2 separate regions of the Homo sapiens genome follow, and region 1 is linked to region 2. The links come from fine-mapping of genetic effects on gene expression. Tissue or cell type: whole blood. Region 2 holds a variant in brackets; the other region holds the start of a gene. All regions are shown on one strand. Distances are from middle to middle.

The links. PIP is the estimated chance that this variant, and not a neighbour inherited with it, causes the effect.
Region 1: TTYH2 starts here. The variant in region 2 is fine-mapped to the expression of TTYH2 in whole blood (INTERVAL, PIP 0.99).

What each region holds. Positions count from the first base shown.
Region 1 is chr17:74,209,421-74,218,069 of GRCh38, reverse strand. TTYH2 (tweety family member 2) reads right to left here and starts at 4,499. Exons shown (of 14, transcript NM_032646.6): 1 at 4,354-4,499. The coding sequence starts at 4,482. RPL38 (ribosomal protein L38) reads right to left here. Exons shown (of 5, transcript NM_000999.4): 5 at 7,415-8,266. The coding sequence ends at 8,241. MGC16275 (a long non-coding RNA gene) reads left to right here and starts at 4,749. Exons shown (of 2, transcript NR_026914.1): 1 at 4,749-5,546; 2 at 6,388-8,090. RefSeq lists enhancers at 2,155-2,204, 7,528-7,577 and a silencer at 4,463-4,622.
Region 2 is chr17:74,243,709-74,253,496 of GRCh38, reverse strand. TTYH2 (tweety family member 2) reads right to left here. Exons shown (of 14, transcript NM_032646.6): 6 at 9,448-9,520; 7 at 4,417-4,486; 8 at 4,098-4,153; 9 at 3,469-3,561; 10 at 3,140-3,232; 11 at 1,121-1,263; 12 at 231-416. Among named protein-coding and RNA genes, the nearest start is that of DNAI2, 26 kb to the left of the region's middle. RefSeq lists an enhancer at 7,721-8,615. The variant C/T (reference allele first, on the strand shown) is at 5,624.

The sequences.
Region 1 (8,649 bases), 35 kb after region 2:
GGTGGAGGGGAATGGAGGAGGGAGCCAAGAGTTCTGCTTCCAGGCCCCCCTGCTCAGATGGACAGAGCTTTGCCAAGACAATTTCCCACGCCTCCCCACGCCTCCCACTGTGCCCTGCAGCCACCTCCTTGTCCCACAGCAACACCAGGCCCCCAGCTCCCACACTGGTGCTCAGACTCTGCCTCTCCCCTCATCAAAGGGACTTCAATTATTTCTGATTTGTCACTGTGTCATGAAAAACCCAGAGCGGAGAGTGCCAAGCTGGGACCCAAGTTGGGGGCCGCAGTGACCATGGCAGCGGGACCCAAGGGGCTTCTGCACTGGGCAGGGGAGGGGGCAACAGCCCTGGCCCCAGAAGACATAGAGAGAGGTGTGCCGGTCTCAGGGGGAGGCTGGGAGAGGGAAACTAGGAGCACCTAGAGGGAGAGTCTCCCTCCCAGGCCCACTGGGAAAGATTAAGCCCTCTCCCAGGCGCGGCATGACTGTCTGATGACCGTGACTCAATTTCACACTGGATGAATGGGGCTTCCTCATCCCAACCTCAGCTCTTCTCAGATCTCGGCTGGGATGGGCTTGCTGCCTGGTCCTTCTTCCTCAGACCTGCCCCCAGGTCAGAAGCAGGAAGTCCTGTAGTTCCGGTCCAGTCCCCAACTGTGTACCCTCCACTTTGTACTTTGGCGAATCTATGAACGGAACCAACCAATGAGAGAACACGTGGAAATACATGCCTAAATACAAAAAAAATTAACAACATCTCCTCTGCCTCCTAACACATGTCCCCAAAGAGCAGCTGGTCGGCTGATCCTGGGCAAGGGAAGCTGGAACAGGAAGCACACATGTGGCCACCTGCCTGTTGACAGTAGCAATAACTAACATTTGCACAGCCTTTGGGAGCTTACTAAGATGTTTCAAGAACTGAGCTCATCAGTGTCTGGTCTCCCCTGAGGGGCTGGCTGGATGGTGATGGTGGCACTCACGCTCAGGCAGGGACACCGAAGTGCCTCGTTCATTTGCTCAGAGAGACATTGCTGGATTCAGTGCCAGGTGCCCATTCCCTTCTCCCCAACACTGCCCAGTGGACACCGGCTGGCTGCAGTCTTCTCCTTCCTAAGCAGTGATTGTAGCAGTTTCCAGTGTGCCAGGCACTGGCCACAGGCTTCATAATCCATGAACTCATTAGTTCTTTTATCATCTCTTTAGAGTAGGAATCGTCTCCAAATCCAATCCCCCTCATCTGTCAAAGGTGAGAAGACTTGGGCTGCAGGTCTAGGCTGATTTCCTTCCAGACATACAGCCACATCTGGCAGCCCAGAGCTGGGTGCCCGCCAGGGCCAAGGTGCCCTCGTCCACAGCCCTGCCTTGGTGCTCACCTCTCATGCCTCTACTCACTGGAGGGTAGCCTCCCCACAAGGCTGGTGACACAGGCCAAGTGGCCTTTGCGAGGACTTGGGCTCAAGTTCACTGGGGGGAGAGGGGTGAGGATCAACTATCAGGAGGACTGGGGGCTTTCACGGCTCCCAAACACCCCAGAAAGTGAGTGAGAGCCCCTACTTCCTCAGGAAGGTTCTGGAACACTGAACTTGCTCAGGAAATCCCAGCTCACCAGGTGACCTGCTCTTCACCATCTCTGCACTTCCAAGAACCCCCTTGCCTTTGAGATCCCCCGCACCACCCACATCCTAAGGCCAGCACCTGCCTGTTTCCATCCTTGCTTAGTCTCTGATGCACACGCACCCACCCCCCACACCCCACACAGCCAGCACTGTGCATTTGAACATGTGGGGCATGAGCTGAAGCCCTTTCTGCAGGCGTTTTGTTCAGTCTCCCCCAATCAGAGTCTGTGGAAGAGATCTCCTTCCTCTCCATTCCCCAGCAGGGTACTGTCCTGAGACACACTCCTGAACCTCTCAGCCACTCCATTGAATGATCTGTGTCACTGGCTCCTGTTATGTGCTATGGGACTCTCTGTACTAGGCATGATATGTGGAATATCTCATCTAATTCTTGCAGATGAAGGGAACAAGGCTCAGAGAGGTTAAGACACCTACCCGTGGTCACACATGGAAAGAACTGGGAATCCACCCCAGCCAACTGGAGGGCAGAGCCCCACCTCAAACTGCTTGGTGTCTGCCATAGCACTGCGCCCAGAGCCCAGCCGCAGAAAATCCCCAGCAATTTCTCCTGAAGACCTGCTGCCTTGGTTACCACGGTCACCCCACGCCTGGCATAGCACTTGCTCCAGTCAAGCTTGCTGAAGACTGGGATGACCGACGGTCCACCTGACTCTGTTAGTGACTGGTGCTCAGGAGGAAAGAAGACATCCAGGAGAGACCTGTGGTCACAACAGGGGAACTTACCAAAAACAGGAGCCACCTTAAATAACACCCAGAGCCAGACTTCCGGTCCTGGCCCACCACGCTCATCTCCTACTCAGCGATCTGAGTGGTGGTGAGGGGGTGAGCGGGACCAGGAGCCAGTGGGCAGGGCTGGTGTCAGCTGCCCAGGAGCAGTGGCCGATGGGAAGGGACACCCTCTGGAACCATTTGATGCCCAGCACAAAGTGAGCCGGGGCCAGAATCCTGGGAGGAGGGGCAGAGGCTGGAGGTAGGTTCATCTGGCTCAACTGCCACCTGCCCATGGGACTGAGGGGGCTGTGGGCAGGCCCAGGATCCACCAGCCACAGCTGTTGGGCTGATAGGAACTGTCTCTGGGGCCATCAGGGTGAGGGAGTCCCCTTACCATCCCTACCCCCACCTAGGGGTCTTCTTGACCCAATGAAAAGTTTAGATTTCCTCCAGTGGAGAGGAGAAAACTATGGCTGGAGACCCCGGGTGTGGGATGTGGGGCACAGGGTTTGGGATGGGGACACACACACACACACACACACACACACACACACGGCTGTTTCTGAAATCATATCCGCCTCTTTTCATGCATTCTCTGGGAGAGGAAGATTCCCTGGAGCTATCCCCAGGCAGCCACATTCTCAGGGAACACAGACTCCCACAGGCTGGGCTCTGGGGGAGGGGGGTGGGTCCACCGACTGCCGTCTTGCTCCTGAGTGCCCACTGAACCCCAGGAAGGGGTCCTGATGCTCCCCTCCCTCTGGTAGGGCAGGCACCATCTGCCTGGGCCTGATGGCAGCCGGGTCGTCAGGGGTTATTATTAGACTCCCTGTCACTGGCGCTTGGGCACCTCACACTGGATCAGGATTCCCTCCAAGAGGCCCTGCTTTGCCCTGATCTGTCCCATATCTGGAGAACTTGACACAGGGAGAGGCCGCCGGGGGCCAAAGTCCTGAGATGGGCGCCTGGCTCTGAATAAATGGACCTCATCCTGGTCCACTGGCCCCAGAATCTTTGACCCAACACAAGGAACTGATACAGGTGGGCTCCCGGGGCCAGAGCAGGCGTGACCAGACCTGAGACGGGCTGGGAGATTCTGCAGCTTTGTTTGTCTGGGCAGGGAGGTCTGGGGAGCCCTGGCCCTGTTTGTGGGGTGCAGAATCCTGCCAAGGGTCAGCAGAGTAGGGAAAGGGCGGGGAAGCCGGGAGTGACTGCCCTAGGCCAGAAATTCAGGGCTTAAAGGTGTGAGGTAGAGAGAGGGGCGTGGGGGAACAGGAATGGGCCAGTCTAGGACCAGGGGACACAGAGAAGCTGACTGTCAATGCAAGGGGGTCCTCAGGACAACAGTGTGAGATGGGCTGACGGAGGCCACCTTCCTTCCCTGGAACAAGCGCAAGCAGCTGTGGGTTCTCTGCGCTAGAGGGGAAGTGACCCACACCGCTTCCCCAAGCCCTGCAGCCTTCCAGCTGAGACTCCCACCCTGCAGGCCGGGGCTGGGGAGGAGGGGTGCTGCGAAGACCGACTCGGGAGACTCTACTCAGTTTCTGCCAAACTTTCCTAGGCCACTCAGCCCCGGAAAGAGAGCGCCCCATCTTGGAATCTCAGACGGTCGAAAACTTCGGGGCACCCCTCAGCATCCCCGCACCTCGCGCGCCAGGATTACCCCGAGACGAATGCCCCTGTCCTTACCCCTCCCCCGCGCCGCCCTGCCCGCTCAGCGTTCAGCCCCTCACCCCGCAGGCGGTCTTGCGCCCTTCCTCCCCTTCCCCACGCTCGCTTCACTCTGATCTCTTCAGTTTTCCCGGCCCCCAGGTTCCCAGACAGGAGGGGACGCGGGCCACGGGCCTGGGAGGGTGGGGGAAAAGGGGAGAGGGGAGACGGGAAAGGGCTGCGCGGGGAGAGAAGGGGTCTGAGAGGCACGTGGGAAAGTGCAGGCTCTCGAGGGGAGAGGGGGTAGTGCGGGGACTTGGGGCGCGCGTGGCTGCGGTCTGGGGCGGCGTAAACTTACCTCCTGGTAACTCTCGTCGCCGGGGCTGAAGGTGCTGTTCACGGGCTGCAGGCGCAGGCCGACGTGCGGGACGCTGTGCAGCCACACGACCCACCAGGGAGCGATGTAGTCCACGCGCGCCGCCTGCATGGCTCGGCCCGAGTGCTACCCACAAGCTGAACGACAGCTGCGCTCACCTCCCGGCCGGGGCCCCGTGCCCGCCCCGCCCCCGGCCCCGCCTCTCCCTGGGCCCGCGCCCGCCCCGCCCCGCCGCGATCCCAGTCCCAGTTCTGGGCGCGCAGCCCGCTGCAGTCAACAGCCCCTTTCTGGGCGGGGATCTGTCCTGGCCGGATGGGAGGAGGGAAGTGAAAAAAGCTCCCAGAAGTCTCTAAATCAGTTTCAGTCTCGAGGTCCCCGGGCTGCTTCTTATTTATGATCAGATCAAGGGTATAAGGTGTCAGTGGGGGCAGCCAGCAGTCATAGGCCAGAGAGGGGCGACTGCCCGTCCCAAGGGCTTGTCACAGGGTAAGTAACCGACAGACTGGGAAAGGAAGGAGGCAATCTTCAGCCACTCGGTCACTCATTCTAAATTCACTCTCATTTTTTGGGCATCTATTGTGCAAGCCCTGTGGACTTAAAAAGAGAAATAAGACGCCGTCCCTGCCCTCGGGAGCTCCCGGCGCATCTGCCCCAACAACTCGCTGAAGCCGCCTGCAGGACGCCTGAGTGAGGACAAGGTGTCTCACTCAGAAAATTTGCTTGATTCTTCCTGGCAAGTGGGACAGGGTGAGCTTCCCGGAGGAGGGGACCTTCGAGCTGTGTAGCGGGGAAGGTAGGAGAGCGATGAGAGCGCCCGGAAGGGACAAGCATTCGGGGAGACTGAAGCGCATTCAACAACATATTTATTGAGCACCTACTACGTCCAGGCACTGTTACATCGGTGATGTAACAAAAGCCGACAAAAACCCTCACCCCGAGCGCAGGCACCGCAGAGGGCGATGACGACCCGAGAAGATGCCGAACGCAGGCCAGGAGGGGGCTCTGGGGAAAAGCAAAGGCAGGGGAGGTTGCCCATCGGGGAGCCTCGCGTCCCTGGGCCCTCCGTACTCTGCACATATGCAGAGGCCCCCACCCGTCCTGTAACCGCAAACTGCTTGGCGTGACTTGGCCAGCGGAGGGAGGAGCCCAGGCTGCAGGACAAGCAGGAGTCAGGGGTAGGTGCGGTGGAGTGATGGGGTCGCGGCAGATTGGGCGTGGAAACCGCGCTGGGCAGCCAGCCTGAGGGGTGCGTATCCACCGCGGCAGGGACGCGGGTGAGAAAGGAGCCCCGGGAGGACGGGGCGGGGCTCCTAGGGTTCTGGCTGAAGGGACCGGGTGGATGCGGACCGACTGAAAACGCTCGCAAACACATATGGCTGCTGGGGAGTGGGGCCCCAGTCACCCGGTGCTCAAAGGCCCTGTGTCCATTAGAGGAAGTCCTGGCCTCGGGGCCTCTCCTCGTGGCCGTGATCCCACGGTTCTGGGGCCCTGCAGGAGCCCAAAGCTGAGGGGCCCGGAAGGCTGGAAACAGCCATTCTTCTCTCATTGGGGTGTCTTTCAACAAATTTTCTTGAGCACGTTCTCTGTTCTAGAGGATACAGTAATGGATAAAACACACGTTCCCGCCTGCATGGCGTCTACAGCCTAGTAGGCGAGGTGAGGTGGACTTGTATCCTGCAAACAGCGATTGCAGGCCTTGTGAAATGTCAGAGTCCCTGCTGTAGGGAGAGGGGATGGAAGGTGGGCGTCAGGGTTGTTTCCCAAAGGACAGTGACATGAGCTGAAGGATGATCGGGAGTCAAAGAGGGGGGTGCTGGGGGAGGCCTCTGTGCAGAAGGAACAGGACCCTGTGAGATCAGGGACTAAGGCCAGTGGAAGGGGAAGCAAGCAAGTTCCAGAACAGGACAGGGAGCCGGAGAACTGCAGGAGCCAGGCGATCAGCTTGGAGACTGCGGCAGGGGAGGGAACTTCTTTGGGTGAAAACCTCCTTTTAAAAGGTCTTGGTCTCTGACTCAGTCCCTGCAGTTGCTGGGGAAAGTGGACTCTTCTGGTAGCTGCTTTTACAGCCCCTGCCCTCAGAGGCCCCCCAGGTGGGAAGGGCCTGCCTCCTAGGCAGTGGGTGGTCACCGAGGACTGACTTTGAACCCGGGGCAAGGGAGCCCCAGAAGGCTGGAGGCCTGCACACGGCACTGGAAGAAACAAACTGCAAAGGCTGTCCCTCAGGGCTATCTCCACAGCCACCGGAATGCGGCCTGGAATATCCAAACCTGTCAGCCCACCTGCACCCAGCCAGACAGCGACCATTCTAGCTGCTTCCCCGGAGGCCTGCTGACCCAGAGAGGTGTCAAAAAGCTGAAGCACAACAGACAGACCTCCCACAGACTCAGCAGGGAGTTGGAGGACAGTCGGCACACCAGCAGCTGTAGCCCATCACCTCCCCCCTCCCCATTCACCTGGTATGCAGCACTTAAGGGCTTGCTGAAGCCCCAGCAAAGCAGAGGCCCACCTGAGAGCTTGGAAACACACCTATGCCCCAGACCACCGCAATCGCAATCTCCAGTCAGCCCTGGCCACCACAGTGAACTGCCTAAGTGCCCCAGATGACTGAGTCACAAGCCAGGGCTGGGAAGCACTGCATGAAAGGCGGCCTTCTCTAGACAAGGCTGGACACACCCCTGCAAGGCCTGTCTCCTAGGAGCTGGGATGAAACTCTGGACGATGTGCTGGGAACAAAGAAAACCCACATGGTAAAGGCTCGCTTTTCCTTGGGAATCTGCAATGCTTACAGAACGGGAAAGGCTGAAAGCCGCCCACAGTGCCGCACCTGGGCCTGAGGGCTGGTGTACCCACCCTCTCCCGGAGGAAACAAGACCCGTGACCAGACTCAAAACCACCTCACACCCTCACAATCCTTACAGAATATTCAAAGACTGGCACTTCAACCTTACAACCTGAGCACGTCTAAATGCCTAACACAATACCAAGCACACTGTATGCCACGCTTTTAAAAGGTAGAGATCTTAAAAAAACAAAAAACACTACCTCGGGTATGAAGACAGATTTTATGATGCCAGTCATTTCCAGAGGGGCTGCCCGCTGTGGCACAGCACCACCTGGTGGCCACCCCAACCCATGCACCTCCCCCCATCCCAGTACCCTGACAGCAAGCCAATGAAAGAGGTGTTAATATGGCTATTTTCCAACTGAGGAAACAGGCAAAAGTGTAGTCATTTCTCCAAGTCAGTCAAGTTAGCGAGTGGTAGATGTGCTATACCTTGTTGCACCCATTTTGGGACCTGTTTGAATGGCATGCCCCACCATCGCTCCCACATCTGCCAGTTATGTTTAACCCCACGTGCTATTTCCATCATGGCCTCCCCACATCTTATTTTCAAACAGGCTGAAAACAGATGGCCTCATTTGCCGACTGAGATCATGCTCAAGATTAGGGATGCACCGGGCACGGAGGCTCATGCCTGTAATCCCAGCACTATGGGAGGCTGAGGCAGGCAGTGAAACCCTGTCTCTACTACAAATACAAAAATTGGCCAGGCGTGGTGATGTGTGCCTGTAATCCCAGCCACTCGGGAGGCTGAGGCAGGACAGTCGCTTGAACCCAGGAGGCGGAGGTGGTAGTGAGCTGATATCGCACCACTGTGCTCCAGGATGAGCCACAGAGCAAGACTCCGTCTCAAAGAAAGAAAAAAAAAAAAAAAAAAAGACACAGGAAGGCAGCAACAGAACCCGCGTCCTGTTCCCATCAGAAGCCACTACGAGGTAGCATTTTTCCCTTTCCCATCCGCAAAGACGAAAGACACTTAGGATTTTTAGTATTTTAATATAATACAGTTCCAATCAGTGTGTCTGGTTCATTTCAGTTCCTTCACTGCCAAACCTAGAGGGAAAGAGACAAAAGTAAGCCATCCAGAAGACACATCTGAGTTGCTGCTGCTTGTCTAAATTTTGTACTTAAGCTAAAGAGAGCACACAAGGTTCAGAAATTAGATCCACCAGCGAAGTTTCGGTTAAAATATTTAGTGTTTGATAAAAAGACTTGGTCTATTATATTCGATAAAAAGACTTGGTCTATTATATTTCATCTGTTCCCCTGTAAAAAATGGGGACTATCAGTACTAGCACCAACCTCGAAGGGTCGTGAACAGGATTAAATGAGCTCTAACCGCTCTTCTGGCTAAGGAAATGATTTCTGGTACTGTATATAATCTGAGAATCACAACTATTCCTCACACTCCCAACAGCAAGAGCAGATTCTTAGAC
Region 2 (9,788 bases):
ACCAGCTTGTGGCAGAGGCTGCTGACATCAGTGGTTTCTTCCCCCAGCACATGTGGGTGTGGAGGGGTGACTAGATGCTCCCCGGGGGCCTTCCCTCCAGGCACCCTGTGGCTGTAGTGGGGACCACGGGTGGCCTTGGATGCCTTCCTCCCCACACCCGGCACTGTGGACCCCACCCAACATGCTGTCCGGGCAGTGCTACCCAGCCTGGGTGTGTGTGCAGGCCGTACATGTACTCGGAGACAGGGGCGTTGGAGATGGTCTGGGCCGGGGGCTGCAGGCTGGTCTGACTTCCCAGGCCACTGCTGTAGCTGCAGAAGCTGTGAAGCTGTCCCCTCGGGGGACTGTGAGCCGCCATGCGCCAGGCTTGGGGGTTAAAGGGGTCATCATCATCAATGTCATCGTAGTCTCTGTTTCTAGAACAATGGGTAGAAGATGGCCGGCTGTGAAGGGTGAAGGAGGCTCCGAGGCAGCCAGGTCCTGTCCTACTTCCCTGCCTTTCCTCCCAGGACTCTCTGGCCACGCGTGTCTCCTTGAGACTCCTCTAAAACGCGGTCCCCAGCCTGCCTCCTGCAGATCATTCTGGCCCATTCCCAGCTTCACGACCAGCTCTTCCAGGCTCCCCACCACGCTGACCATGCGCATGTGGGTCCCCACTACCCTGCGTCCTCTTGCCTAATCCGCTCACCAGGTGCCTGTACACCATGTGTCCCTGCCCATCTCCTCAAGGGGACTGCAGGCTCCCTGAAAACAGTGACCCCATGTATCCTTCTTGCTATTCCTGGGGCACCCCTCCCAGCACCAAGAACTCTCCTCATTCCAGATCGCAAAGTCCTGGTGAGAAGAGAGGAGAAGGGAGGCCAGACTGTGGCCTGAGGGCTGTCACCACCCTGGGCCCCAGCTCTTGCTCTGGGCCCCACCGAACTCCTTTGGAGGGTCTGTGTGGACTCTTGGGGAAGCTTCTGTAGAAGTCAGCCAGCCTGTTGGGCTGAATGCCCGGGCCCTCTGCTGCCCTCCTCAGTCCTGGGTTATCAGCTAAATCGTAGAGCAGAGGCCCCTGTCTGCTGCTCTCCCAGAACTCCAGGCTGTGGGAGGCTCCCCTCCTTACTAGGCAGCCCACCTGGTGGTGAAGTGCTTCCAGGCCCTTGGCCCTGCACAGATCATGGTGGAGAAGGCGAGGGCGGCCAGGAAGGAGAAGAGGCCAAGGTACAGCAAGCCCTGGAGGCCGTCGTAGCAGATGCCAGCAAGAGCGTCCAGATAATCCTGGAGGAAGAGGAGGGACATGCAGCTAGTGAAGGAGCGGGGGCAAAGCCTGCGGGCCGAGCTCTCCTCTGGAAGTCCCTCTCCCCCGAGCCTGGACCTGGGGTCTCCTGGCTGCTCCCCATCCCGAGCGCCTTGCAGCACCATTAAAGGTCCACACTCTGGAGCCTAACACAATGGGGCTTCTTGGGTTCACGCTGGAAACATTTGCTGAGCACTTACTGTGAGCTGGGCACTAAGAAGCTGGCTCTGAACAGGGCGGAGGAGGTTGCAGGGTGGGGAACCAGAGACGGGGGCACTGAAGCTGAGGCCAGGATGGCAAGAAGCAGCACACCTTGAGAAGAGGGGGCAAAGGGGACAGGCTTGGCCTGTTCAGGAAAGAGAGAGAACATAGGCCAGCAGGGGCTGGGTCGTGCTGGGCCTTGCAATGCGGGAGAGGAGTACGGACTTTTAAAAGGAGTCAGAAAGACATTGGAGGGTGTGGGAGTGGAAGGGATGTGATCCAACCTAGTCTGCAAAAGGACTGCTCTGGTTGCATGTGTGAAAGCTCATGGGTGGTGAGGGGGCAAGAGAAAGTGGGAAGAGGCCACTGTCTGCTGGAGGGGCAGGACCGGATCGTGGTGGAAGCCATGGAGAGAAAGAGAAATGGATGGATTCAGGGTACAGCTGAGAGGAGAGCTGCCAAGACTTGCTGGGGATTAGATGTAGAAGGGGAAGAAGAGAGGAGACAGGGGTGACTGCCATGTTCTTAGCTCTGAGGTCAGACTACCAGGATCTAAACCCAAGCCCCTGATGTGCCAACTCGGGACTCTTCAGTAAGCCACTTTATAAATACACGCACACACACCCCCCACACACATGCACCCCCCACATGCACACACACATGCACCACACACACCACATACATGTGCACACATGTGCACACAACACACATGCACACACACCACACACATCACAGACATGCACACACCACACACACGCACACACCACACACCCCACACACACATACAGGCACATACACATGCACCACACACACGCATGCACAGCACACATGCGCACAAGCATGCACATACCACACACATACATACACACATCACATATGTGCACCCACACAACCGCAGAAACACACCACACACGCACAGACATATACACCACAAGTGCACACACACGCACACACACACAGACACACGCACGTGCACACACACATAGCTGTATCTATGGATCTATCCATACACACGCACAAGCAAGTCAATTTCCTAGGAAATAACGTGTGGTTCACAGTATAACTGTGAGAACTGAATGACATACTGGATATAAAATGCACAGAACAGGGCCAAGCATGGAGCTGACAGCTGTGATGATGACAAAGACTGTCTGCACTAAATCCATCTGGGATGTGAAAGCTGTCGCCATACACTGGCTCACTGCTTTTGGGTGGGGGGCTCTCACGTGCTCCCCATGTGTTCCCTGCATCATTGTGTCTGTCTGATATTCCAAGTTCCTGGAAAGAAGACTCTGGCAATGGGATTGGGACATCCACTTGCAACCCAGGGAGACAGATGTGTTGAGGAAATGGCTAGGAGTCTGGACAATGGGGAACAGCCTCCCTTGCATTGTTCAGGGTCCCCCAGTGACCCAGAGCCAACCGCATCCAACCCTCCCATCCCGAACCCCTGGTCCCTTGTACTGAGTCTCCCTGTCTCAGCCCCTGGAGAAGCCAGGCACCCCCTCCCTTCCCATTATCTGGCTTCAGTTCCATTCCTGGGCCGGAAGGGGACCCAGGCCATCGCTCCCCTCGGCCTCTACCGGCTTTTCTCTGGAAGGTGTGGCCTGCTGGGTGCCCTCACACTCTCCACGTGACCCCAGGGTCCCCATGCACCTTGTGCAGCCCTCGGCAGTCCACCATGGCGGTCAGCTGGTGAAGGCTGGACTCTGAGGAGTTCAGCAGGAGCTGGATTGCAAGCAGGTCTTCCTGAAGCGGGAAGAGAGCGAGAGAGGCCGAGGGGCTGTGGAGGAGAGCTGGCGGAGAAAACCACCACAGCAGCTGTGCTCAGGGGCCTCTAGAGCCAAGGGAGGGAGCCGAGTCACGGGGGCGGGAGAACAGAGAGCCAGCAGCAAGCTGTGCACAGCCTGGCCCTGGGGCCGGGGCAGGGGAAAGGGCTGTCAGGGTTCATCTGGGGCTCCCCTCTTCCTGCACAGCTGCCTTACCTCTGCAGTGGAGAAGAGGGGCACGGCAAACTGCAGCAGCCCCGCGACCTGGATCTGCATGGTGGTAAGTGCGCGCTGGAAGGTGGTCAGGGTCTGAGCCAGGAAAGACACAGCCCCACAGTGAGGCTCCGTCTCCCAGGAGCCCCACAGTGAGGCTCCGTCTCCCAGGAGCCCCACAGTGGCTGAGGGGCCTATGCTCCTGCCCCTCCCACCCCCCCACCTGGCTGCAGCTGCACAGGCCCCTCCACTTGCAGGAAGTCTCCCCCTACTCCTCTGGCTTCTTGAGAGCTGCACAGTCTTCTCCCTGCTTGCAGCTCAGATGTGGTCTTTGGACCAGCAGCCCTGGCCTCACCTGGGAGCTTGTGAGTAGTACAGAATCTCGGCCCCACCCCAGAGCTCCTGGACAGCATCTGCATGGGAACTAGCTCCCGCATTGAGCTGCATATGTGTTAACCACCAATCTAGAACCCACGACCAAAAGCACGCCCCCCTCACAGAAGCAGCTAAGGAGAGGACCACAGTGAGGCAAGCAAGGCCCTGCCACCTCCGCCATCTTGGTCAGTGGTGAGGCTTAGGGTCAAGGGGGAGCGGCTGTGGGCAGGGTGAGGGCAGGCCTCGGGGGGCCATACCTGCTGGAAGGGGCTGCTTCCACTCTGGCTGCAATACAGGTAGTAGCGAGTCACCTCTGCAGGGCAACGGCATAACGTTAGGCAGCTCACAAATGACCAGATGAGATCTCTATCATCCTTGGTGGCCAAGCCAGACCTCCCTCCCCGTCCCTGAGCTCCCAAGGGAGGCACTTTCTAGGAAATGGCCTAGAGCATGAGCTGGACTTGAAGTTCAGGGTTGAGGAGGGGTTGGATGGCTACAGGGCTGAAAGAGGTAAGTAGGGGCACAGAGTCCGGCCACCTATGCATCCACAGCAGCAGCCTGAGAGTGTGTAGTTACCTGTGCTGATCTGGCCCTCCGTGACGTTCAGGATGAAGGTGTCAGGAGCCACACAGAAGTCACTGGTGGCCTGAGTGAGGGAGAGAGGGACGGGGTGGAGGAAAATCAGGTATCAGGACAGCGGGGCCCTGGGAGGAGCCGGGAGCCCATCACCCCAGCCCCTTGAGCTCCCTCCCAGGTGGCAAAGGACAGTCTGGAGCCAGCCTCCTGGGTTCAAACCTGGCTCTGCCCCTTCCTAGCTCTGTTGCCTTGGACAAGTTACTTATTCTTCCTGTGCCCCGGTTGCCTCATCTGTGACATGGAGATGATAATGCTATTCACCCAATGCAAGTAAAGTGCTCAGAAAAGTGACTGGGGCAGAGCGCATGCTGTTACTCTTATTCCCGAATGCCTCTTCTGGGACAGACCTTTGGGGGCCAGCATCCTGGGCCCCAGGGCAGCTGCAGGCTGTGTGTGTGGGAGTTCGTTACACCATGGCCTCATCTGCTGTTTTACATTTTGTCTTGCTATGATCAAGTGCTACAGGGACGGGTGTTCAATCTATGAAGCCTCCCCCAAACTCTTTCTAAAGAATGAGGTTGGTGCTGAAGCATCTGTGAGCCTTGGGTGCAGGTGCTCACCTGCCAAGACATGGGGTGGGAAGGGCATGGAGCTGAGAGGCGGCTGCCACTTATGAGCTGGAGGACCTGGCCCCACAGCACGGCCTGGCTAAGTGATTGCTAAGGCCCATGCGGCAGGGTGGGAGCAGACGCAGGCCCCAGGAGAGGCGGCAGCAAGGACATGGCCTCCAAGCCAGGCGCACCCCAGATCTGGCCTGGGGTGCTCTAGGGACTGGATAAACTGGGGGGCCTCCGCCTTCCAGAGCAGCCAGGGAGAGCTCAGGTCCTCTGGCCTGTTCCTTAGGGATGTCCCCCTCCTCTGGCACATGCTCCCCGGGCAGGGGACCCCTCTGAGTGCCCTGCTCTGCCGGTGGCCCCGTCCTCCTTCAGGAGCCACTGCCTCAGGGGTCCACAATAGAGCATCACTCACTAACTTGCTAAGTTGATAGACATTTATGGAGTACTTACTCAGTGCCGTGCAGGGTTCTAGCACCTAGAGGTTAGTGCATCACAGCACTTACGGTCTAGAAAATGTGTGTATAGCGAGGGTGCGGAATAACACACCCCTCCAGATACAGAGCTTCCCGAGAGCCCCACATGCACGCACG[C/T]GCACACACACACACACGCATGCACGCACGCACGCACGCACTTAAGACCCTGGGAGAAATGCTTTATACACAAACCACCAGCATTCATAATACATCAACCTGGCCTATTATTACCTATCAGAGCTGCGGCGCCAGCAGGCCTGGTGGTGTGCCCCCACCCCCTGGCTGGAGTGACAGAGAGTGCAGCCAGGCCCAAGTGGAGGATGGGGAAGCCTTGGGGAAATAAAGAGCGAGGCCACCATCTCAGTTTGGGTCACCCCCAAGAAGTTTGGGAACCAAGAAAGGAGAGGGACAGGAGGCTCCAGTCCAAGGCTCCACAGTGACATGGTCTTCCTCCTGCCTCTCTCCTCCTTCCCCTCCCAGGCCAGGCCTGCTCTTCACACCCCTTGGCCACCCTGGAGCCTCCATCTCCTGGGATAGGTGCATAGGATGGTTTGGGGTGTGGGACTCAGTGAGGAGTCAACTCTCCTATTAATGAAGACAAGCACCTGTGTGCGTGTGCATGTATGTGTGTGATGCCCTTGTGTGTGTGCATGTCGAAATGGTCCACCCAGATCTCATCTTGAATTCCCACATGTTATGGGAGGGACCTGGTGGGAGGTAACTGAGTCACGGGGGCAAGTCTTTCTCACGCTGTTCTTTTGATAATGAATAAGTCTCACAAGACCTGATTTTTTTTTTTTTTTTTTTTTGAGACAGAGTCTCACTCTGTCGCCCAGGCTGGAGTGCAGTGGCGTGATCTTGGCTCACTGCAACGTCCACCTCCCGGGTTCAAGCAATCCTCCTGCCTCAGTCTCCCGAGTAGCTGAGATTATAGGAATGCACCACTATGCCTGGCTAATTTTGTATTTTTACTAGAGATGGGGTTCTGGCATGTTGGTCAGGCTGGTTTTGAACTCCTGACCTCAGGTGATCCCCCTGCCTCAGCCTCCCAAAGTGCTGGGATTACAGGTGTGAGCCACCACACCTGGCAGATCTGATGGTTTTAAAAACAGGAGTTTCCCTGCATACGTCCTCTCTCTTTGCCTGCTGCCATCCATGTAAGACGTGACTTGCTCCTCCTTGCCTTCCACCATGATTGTGGGGCTTCCTCAGCCATGTGGAACTGTGAGTCCAATCAAACCTCTTTCTTTTGTAAATTGCCCAGTCTTGGGTATGTCTTTATCAGCAGTGTGAAAATGGACTAATACACGTGTGCATTACTCATGCCATGGTGATAGGGATGGCAGGAGAGGGGACAGGAAGGAGGTCACTGAGCATAGTTGGGGCAGGTGGGAGAGGCTGCCCAGTAACCAGCCCAGGTGATGGCTGAGCCTGCAGGCAGCTCCTGAGAATGGAGGTGTGGGTCTGAAGGGACCCCCGTGACCCTAGCATGATGACGATGAATGCACAGGAAGCCAGTGGTGGCCACTGTTTATTGGACATTTTCTGTGTGCCTCCCAGGATGAACCCACTCATCTTTCCCTAGCAACAGCCCTTTGAGGTAAGTCCTGTTATTCTCTGTGTTCACCTAGGAGGAAGCTGAGGCACAGAAAACCTCAGGAACTTTCCTGGGTTTCCACTGCTGGGAAGGGGTGAAGGGAGGATGTGGGCCCAGACAGGGTGGCTGCAGAGGCCACACTCCCACCCTCTGACTCAGGGGCAGGCCTGGCTGCCCCTTAGCTGGAGGAATCCCCTGAAGTTCTCTGTCCCCAGGCTCGGTGGCCAAAGCACTTGTGACAGCCATTGCCTCCTCCCTCACAGCTGAACCCATTTCCTTCCCCTTCCTTCTTCCAGGGCTTCCCAGCCTCTCTGCCTGCTCTAGCCCCTCACCCCAGACACCTCCTGACTCGCAGTGCTGACCACGAGGGGTGGCCCCAGGGCCTGGAAGCTTGGAGCTCCGCTGCTCCCTCCTCTCCCTGCCTCACCCAGAGCAGATCTCCAGGGCAGTGCTCTGTCCTCATGGAGTCCTTTCTAGGGACAGGGAGGGGTAGGGGTCGGGGGTGGGGAAGGGAGGCCTTGTCAATCCTCTGGCCCCATGGCTGTCAAAACAGGCCTCAGAGAGCAGGGTGGCATTGGGAGGCCACACAAAAGCTCTCCACAACAACCCCGGGACAGCCGGCCGCCCTCCCCGCCCTCCTGGCTCCTCCTCACCCGGCTTCCTATTAAAATGCAGCAGCATCTCCAGCCCGTCAAAAGCCCATTCAGCTCCACCGCCTGCTCCCCATCTCGCACTCAGGGGCCTGACTAGAGGAATTAGGGAAATGGCCTTTCTCCCCAGCTCCCCGCATTCCAGGGCGCCCAGCTGGGAGATTAAATGGCCTCTGGTTTTCGTGAACACTGAAGCCTGGTGAGAGGGAGGAGCCCCCACTGGGAGGGGCGGCCACCACAGGGCAGCTCACAGCGGCAAGCTGGAAGCCACCGCTGCCTCCAGAAGGCAGAGGCTGCCCAGAAAGCGGGATGGGGCCCTGGAGGAGTTCGCCGTGTGCTCCCTGCAGCTTCCCTGTGCGTGGCCCTGGCCCCAGAGGAGAGGCTGGAGGCCAGGCAGCTGCCTGCATCACCCTGGCCAGCAGTGGCACTGTTTACAGCCGTCCCAGCTCCTGCATGCTTTCAAACATGACTTGGGCCTTTTCTCGACCATTCCTTGGTCCGTGGTCACTGCACTGGGGTGGCAGGAGGCAAAGACAGAAAATGCCCCCTCTTCTCCCTTCTGCACAAGCCTCTGCCTAAGGTGCTAAGTCAGGCAGTGCCAGAGTCCCTGAGGGCATTGTGTCCACGCCCAGAGCTAGTGGCCAGCCCCCAAGTCACTGGACGAGGTGTGAGTGTGGTTAGGGAGCTTCTTGTACAAGCCACCCCCATCTTATCCTATCAAGCCTCAGGTCACTATGGCAGAACAGATGCATGTCCCAGGGTTAGTCTGTGGACTTTGAATCAGTGAGGGGTTCCTTGAATTCCCCTGGTAAACTGTGTTCTCTTCTATCACGTGCATGTGCATGAACACACACACACAAACACACACACACACACACACACACACACTGCACCTCCACTGTATCAAAGCCTGGGGTTGCAGTGATCTGCCTATGAGTCTTGCTTCCAAAGGCTGGAACTTTGTCAACAGCAAACATCACGTCCTCTTGGCTTCCGCAACCCCAGGCAACTTGTACCATCGAGTGCCACCCAGCAAACAATGTCAGCTGAGTGAATGAACAGCCTCATGCACACAGCTTAGCGCCAGTGTTAGGTCCTTTAAAGATCATGTGGACCCGCATAGGAAGCCCCCAACTTTTTTTTTTTAAGCCATTTTGAGACATCACATCCAGAAACATACAGCATGTGTGCTTCAGACCGCGGGAGTCCTGGGACATTGGGATGGAAGGCAAGTCAGACACCACATTCTACAGTCCCAGGGCCTGGGGAGCTGGCAAAGCAGCAGCTTCTGATGCGGGAGGGATTCCCCAGTCTGAGGCTTGGACCCCTACCCATTCTCAGGAGACCCGGTCAGTTCTTCACACCCAGAGAGAAGCGCCCTGGTCACCCAGGCACGCCTAAGCCTAAGCACGTGTAAGCCTAAGCATGCCTGGGCAGCCGGGGGCTTCTCTCTGGGTATGAAGCATGAGTGTCTTATCCTGGCTCTGACCCTGGGCAGTCCCCTTCCTTTCTCTGGGCCTGTTTCCCCATCTGTAACGAGAGGGGCCGGTTCAGATGACGCAAGTCCCTTTGGTTCTGAGATTCTGGGATTCTAGGTTAGGAGCTGGGACCGGAAGCTGGCCCTGCTTGGAGACACACCAGAGTGTCCTGGCAGACCAACCACCACCCACCACCCACTCCCTCCCCCAACTCACCACTGCCGCAGAGCCATCAGCGGCCAGGGATGCCCAACTGAGGAGCAGGCTCAGTGCCCCACAGCACAGCATCCTAGGAGAGAGGCAGGCGACAACGTTGGCAGGCGGGGTCCCCTTCCTCTCAGCCATCACCCCACCCACCCTGCCCCCAGACCCTTGCAATGGATCCAAAGGCAGCCTCAGTCCCTGCCCTGACGTGGGCCCTGCTCACTACTAGGAAAGGACCATGGAGCCCAGGTCCTTGAGGCTAAAGAGACCCAGGCGTGAGAGCACAGGCTAAGGGGGCAGTGTTGGCTAAGACGGCCAGAGGCTTTCATGCACGGACCCATGTTTCTTAGCTG